Regions from separate parts of the Homo sapiens genome. Here region 1 is linked to region 2. The links come from fine-mapping of genetic effects on gene expression. A gene starts in region 2. The other region holds a variant in brackets. All regions are shown on one strand. Distances are from middle to middle. Region 1 has its middle 33 kb from the start of ARFGEF2. Region 2 holds the start of CSE1L (chromosome segregation 1 like).

Region 1 (2,910 bases), 160 kb after region 2:
TCAGTACTGTTTTTTTCCTGGTTGTTTTTGCAAGCACAAGTGGCAACATACAGTGCATATGGCTCTACCACTTGCTTTTGCACCCCAAAATTAATAGCATGATCTACCTTAAAAATAAACCCTGTAGCTTCTACTTCATAGAATGACTATACTGTGGTTTATTGATCAGTTCCCTTTTTGAGGGGCATTTAGGGTGTTTCCAACTTACTGCCATTCAGAGCAAAGTTTTGATAAATATCCTCATGCACATGTGTACGTGTTTCTCTGGCGCAGACAAAAGTGAAATAGCTCAGTCAGTGGGTGTATGCAATTTCACTTTAATAGAGATCCTGAATTTCCCTCCAAAAAGGCTATATCAGTTTATAATCAGTTTATAATCCCATTTCCTTACACTCTTCCCAACCCTTGATAACATCACACTTCCAAATGTGTATTTCATAACCAGTGAGGCTAAAGTTTTTTTCATATGTTTACTGACCATCTGTTTTTCCTCTTTGGTGAACTGCCCATTTCTGTCCTTTGCCTGCTGTTGTATTGGGTAGTTTGTCTTTTTAAAAATGAATCTGTAGTAGTTCTTTATATATTTTGAGCACCAATCTTTTGCCTGTATAAACTACAGATATTTTCTCCTGTCCTGTCACTTGCTTTTCAACTTGGTTTCTGATTTTTCTTCTTCTTGTTGTTGAGGTGATGTATACTTATAAAACTTCTAACAGCAATTCTTGGCATATAGTTAGCATTCAACAAGTAGTGGGATGACACTAGCTAGTGTGTATTAAAGGATTCCCCCATGCAAAGCAGGGCCAGGACTAGGGTGAAGCAAGCCAGACAAAATTTAAGGGAGCGTTAACAAACTTGGTAATTAAGATAAAGTATTTGTAATGCAATATTTACCAAAATCGAAATGAATACAAAAATCCATGACAAACAAAATGGCTTTTTTTTTTTTTTTTTTTTTTTAGACAGGATATTGCTCTGCTGCCCAGGCTGGAGTGTGGTGGTGCAATCTCGGCCCACTTCAACCTCTGCCTCCTGGGCTCAAGAGATCCTCCCACCTCAACCTCCCAAGTAGTTGAGATTACAAGCATGTGCCACCATGCTTGGCTAATTTTTTTTTTTTTTTTTTTTTTTGAGTTGGAGTCTCGCTCTGTCGCCAGGCTGGAGTGCAGTGCTGCGATCTTGGCTCACTGCAACCTCCACCTCCCAGGTTCAAGCAATTCTCCTACCTCAGCCTCCCGAGTAGCTGAGTGCACCACCACGGCCAGCTAATTTTTGTATTTTTTTAGTAGCGATGGGGTTTCACTATGTTGTCCAGGCTGGTCTCAAACTCCTGGACTCAAGTTATCCACCTGCCTTAGCCTCCCAAAGTGTTCGGATTACAGTGTGATATGGTTTGACTGTGTC[C/T]CAACCCAAATCTCAACTTGAATTGTATCTCCCAGAATTCCCACGTGTTGTGGGAGAGACCCAGAGGGAGGTAATTGAATCATGGGGGCCAGTCTTTCCCGTGCTATTCTCGTGATAGTGAATAAGTCTCACGAGATCTGATGGGTTTATCAGGGGTTTCTGCTTTTGCTTCTTCCCTCATTCTTTCTTGCGGCCACCATGTAAGAAGTGCTTTTCGCCCTGCACAATGATTCTGAGAAATTCCCCAGACATGTGGAACTGTAAGTCCAATTAAACCTCTTTTTGTTCCCAGTTTCGGGTGTCTTTAGCAGCAGTGTGAAAACCTAATACAACAGGTGTGACCCACAGTGCTTGGCCCAAAATACCAGCATTTTATTATTTATTTATTTATTTATTTAATTTATTTTTTTGAGACGGAATCTCACTCTGTCGCCCAGGCTGGAGTGCGGCGGCGTGATCTCGGCTCACTGCAAGCTCCGCCTCCCGGGTTTACGCCATTCTCCCGCCTCAGCCTCCCCAGGAACTGGAACTACAGGAGCCCGCCACCACGCCCGGCTAATTTTGTTTTAGTATTTTTAGTAGAGACGGGGTTTCGCTGTGTTAGCCAGGATGGTCTCCATCTCTTGACATCGTGATCCGCCCACCTCGGCCTCCCAAAGTGCTGGGATTACAGGCGTGAATCACCGCACCCGGCAAACAACATTTTATTTTTATTTATTTATTTGTTTATTTATTATTTTGAGTTGGGGTCTCACTCTGTCGCCCAGGCTGGAGTGCAGTGGTGTGATCTTGGCTCACTGCAACCTCTGCTTCCCGGGCTCAAGCTGTCTTTCAGCCTCAGTCTCCCAAGTAGCTGGGACCACAGGTGTGAGCCACTATGCCTGGCTAATTTTTGTATATTTTGTAGAGACAGGGTTTTGTCATGTTGGCCAGGCTGAGTCAACCATGTTGGCCAGGTTTTGCCATGTTTTCCATGTTGACCAGTCTCTGACTCCTGAGCTCAAAGTGATCCGCATGCCTTGGCCTCCCAAAGTGCTGGGATTACAGGTGTGACCCACTGCTCCTGGCCACCAACATTTTAAATAAAGTGCTTTCCATGTATTGACTTGCTTAATCCTCATAAAAACTCTAAGAAAGATGGGGAAACTGAGGCACGGAGGTATGTATTAACTTGTTCAAGATTATGAGGCTGATCAGTAATAGCTGGGGTTTGAACCTATGCCACCTGCCTCCAGAGCCTTTGCTGTTTATCATGCAACTTTGGGCAAATCACCTACCTTCTCTAGGCTTCAGCTTCCTCATTTGCTGTTCCCTCATTGCCATTCCTCTTAAAGATAGTATTACCTGCCCTACCTACCTCCGATGGTTGTGAGGCTTAAATGAGATACTATATTGCTAAAGGGATTTTGCAAACTGTAAAGTACTGTGTACATGGAAGGGAGAACAACAGAGAGATCAACAGGGTCTTGGAGCCAGCCTGCTTGGATTCACCACCCAGCTCTGACA
Region 2 (2,910 bases):
ACAAGTAAGCAATAAGTAAGTGTTAGTAAATGCTATGAAGTAACTAAAACCAGGTGATGTTGATGGAGAGCCATGGGAGAAAGGTCCTAGACAGGTTGATTAGACAGCCTGATCAACATGGTGAAACCCCGTCTCTAATAAAAATACAAAAATTAGCCGGGTGTGGTGGCGTGTAGTCTCAGACCTGTAGTCTCAGCTATTCGGGAGGCTGAGGCAGGAGAATCGCTTGAATCCGGGAGGCGGAGGTTGCAGTGAGTCGAGATCGCGCCACTGCACTCCAGCCTGGGAGGCAGAGCGAGACTCTCTCTCTCAAAAAAAAAAAAAAAAAAAAAAAAAAAAGAAAAGAGAAAAGAAAAAGAAAAAGAAAACAAAAGAAGAGGTTGGTTAGGGGAGGCCTAAGGTGAGGGAAACTTGGGAGAGGCGGCCTGCCTTGCAAAAATGTTGGTACTTCCCCAGCAAACAAAAGGCATGTGCAAATAATTTTAAATCGGAATAACCCTGGAATATGGAAGAAACAGAAAGCCACACTGGCTAAGGAGAAAGATGGGTGGGAGAGATGAATAAACAACCGTCAGCTCCCAGGGAACCTTTGTAAACCACGGTAAATAACTCAGCGCATCCTCAAAGCCACTTTCCGAGGTAGATTCTGTTATTAACCCCATTTTGCAGCTAAGGAAATGGAGGCTCAGTGAGATGAGGTGACCAGCCTCAAGTTACACCCCTAACGAGAGGCTACGTCTGGAATGAACCCAGGCGATCTAATTCCAAAGTCTATGCTCCGAACCACCACAGCACAGCGTTTCTCCCAAAACGAGGGAACCCTCCCCCAACCCGCGTTACAGGGGATTTCTATGTCCCGGGTGTACCGACTAGAATTCTCACAAACAATTCAGCAAAGTGAGATCACGATGCCCGTTTTACAGTCAGGGATACAAGTACAGAGGTTAGAGAAGGGTGAGTTCGGGGGCTTCACTAGAGTTAGGGCAAGGGACGACGCGAGGCAGCCGCAGCTCCACGCGCCCGCAGTCCCCGCCCGGGCAGGCCTCGCCGCCGCACACTCAGCTCGCGCGGCTAGCAGCCACCGTCGCAGAGAATGGACATGCGAGCGCGACCAATAAGGAGCGGCCTTCCCGAGCGGAGAGGCGGCGGCGCAGCCAATCAGCGCCGTGATGGAGAGGAAAGGGCGGGCAATCCGCAGGCTCGCGTTAGGCCGCGCCTCAGTTGCCCTCAGCCCTCACAGGCCCTGGGGTCGCCGCACCTGGGCCAGAGACCTAGGATGCCGCGAGGCGCGGCAAGCGCTCCCTAGGGAAGCCGAAGACCTTGCCTGAGCGCACCACCCGAACCCCGGGCCCACATTCCGCTCTCGCCCAGAGGCGCGGTTCTCACTCCCTAGCGCTCGTTAGTACCGGGAGCGCCTCATCCCTTCCTCAGCTGGGCCCCAAGAGCCACTCTGGTAGGCCGTGCACGCCCCGCGCCTCACCTCGTGGGGATACAGAAACGGAGGAGGGAACCCCAGCCGCGGACCGTAGCTGGCACTACCCGCTCCTGCCGCCGCTCCGCCTCACATTCAAACCCCGGCAAAATGGCGCGACAGCGAGCCTGAGGCCAGAGCGCATGAGCGAGCGGCCCGCTGCAGGGGGCGGGGCCAGGAATGCTCTGGCCCCACCCAAGTTCGAAGGGCCAATCGGGGCCCCGCTCTGTTTCTGCGCTGATCTCACAAGTGACAATGCTCTTTGGCTCTGACCATGCCAGCAGGCTTCACGGTTCTCGTTTTCCAAAGAGGAACACAGATTCAGCGAGCGGCTGCTGGCTTCTGACCCATTTTGATGTCAGGGCTTGGCACGTAGGAGGTGTTCAATGTTGATCGATCCAAGGTCGTGCACATAGGGTCTAAGACGGAAGAGAACTTCCTGCCCCTCTTGGAGCTTCTATTTTAGAGGGAGACACGGCCAGACAGGTCTCGAACTCCTGGCCTCAAGTGATCCGCACACCTTGGCCTCCCAAAATGCTGGGATTCCAGGCGTGAGCCACCGCGCCTGGCCTGGTATGTAAGTTTTGGTACTCTTATTACAGCCCACAAACCATATGGGATCTGGCCCCTGCCAGCCTGCCTGCCCTCATCACCTTCCGCTTCCCTCCTCTCCTCACCCTCACTCAGCTCCGCCACCCCACCTTCTTCCTGTTCCTCTAAGCTCCAAGCTTATTTCCACTTTAGAGCATTTATACTTGCTGTTCCCTGTGCTGGGATGTTCTAGATTCCTGAATGATTGGCTCCTTCTTTACATTTAGGTTCCAGCTCAAATGTCACCTCCACAAAAGAGGCCTATCTGAAATTGCCCACTCACCACCACCCAGCACACAAATTAGGGTTGCCAGGTTTAGCAAATAAAATGCAGGCTGCCCAGGTCAATGTAAATTTTAGAAAAAAATTTATAATTTTCTAGTATAAATACTGTGTAGGACATATTTATACTTAAAAATCATGCATTGCTTATCTGAAATTCACATTGAACTGGGTGCCCAGTGTTTGATCTGGTAAGCCTAGTTCCATGATATCATTATGGTATTTATCACTCTCCAACTAATTGTCTCTTCTTTATTTTGTTCCTCCTTCCGCTTCTCCCCTCCTAAACCCCTGCCCTCCTCCCCATCCATAACCTAAGGGATTCTATACAGCAAGGGCTTTTCTTTTTTTTTTTTTTTTTTAAAGACAGAGTCTTGCTCTGTCGCCCAGGCTGGAGGGCTGGAGTGCAGTGGTGCTGTCACAGCTCACTGCAACCTCTGCCTCCCAGGTTCAAGCAATTTTCCTGACTCAGCCCCCCAAGTTACTGGGACTACAGGTGCCCGCCACCATGCCCCGCTGATTTTTGTATTTTTAGTAGACACGGGGTTTCACCATATTGGCCAGGC

The links. PIP is the estimated chance that this variant, and not a neighbour inherited with it, causes the effect.
Region 1: its variant is fine-mapped to the expression of CSE1L in whole blood (INTERVAL, PIP 0.92).

The regions. Positions count from the first base shown.
Region 1 is chr20:48,886,854-48,889,763 of GRCh38, reverse strand. It overlaps a transcript of PREX1 not described here. Among named protein-coding and RNA genes, the nearest start is that of ARFGEF2, 33 kb to the left of the region's middle. The variant C/T (reference allele first, on the strand shown) is at 1,405.
Region 2 is chr20:49,044,994-49,047,903 of GRCh38, reverse strand. It overlaps CSE1L (chromosome segregation 1 like), which reads right to left and starts at 1,592. Exons shown (of 25, transcript NM_001316.4): 1 at 1,481-1,592. CSE1L-DT (CSE1L divergent transcript) reads left to right here and starts at 1,848. Exons shown (of 2, transcript NR_110625.1): 1 at 1,848-2,044. RefSeq lists enhancers at 594-1,234, 1,200-1,269, 1,820-1,969.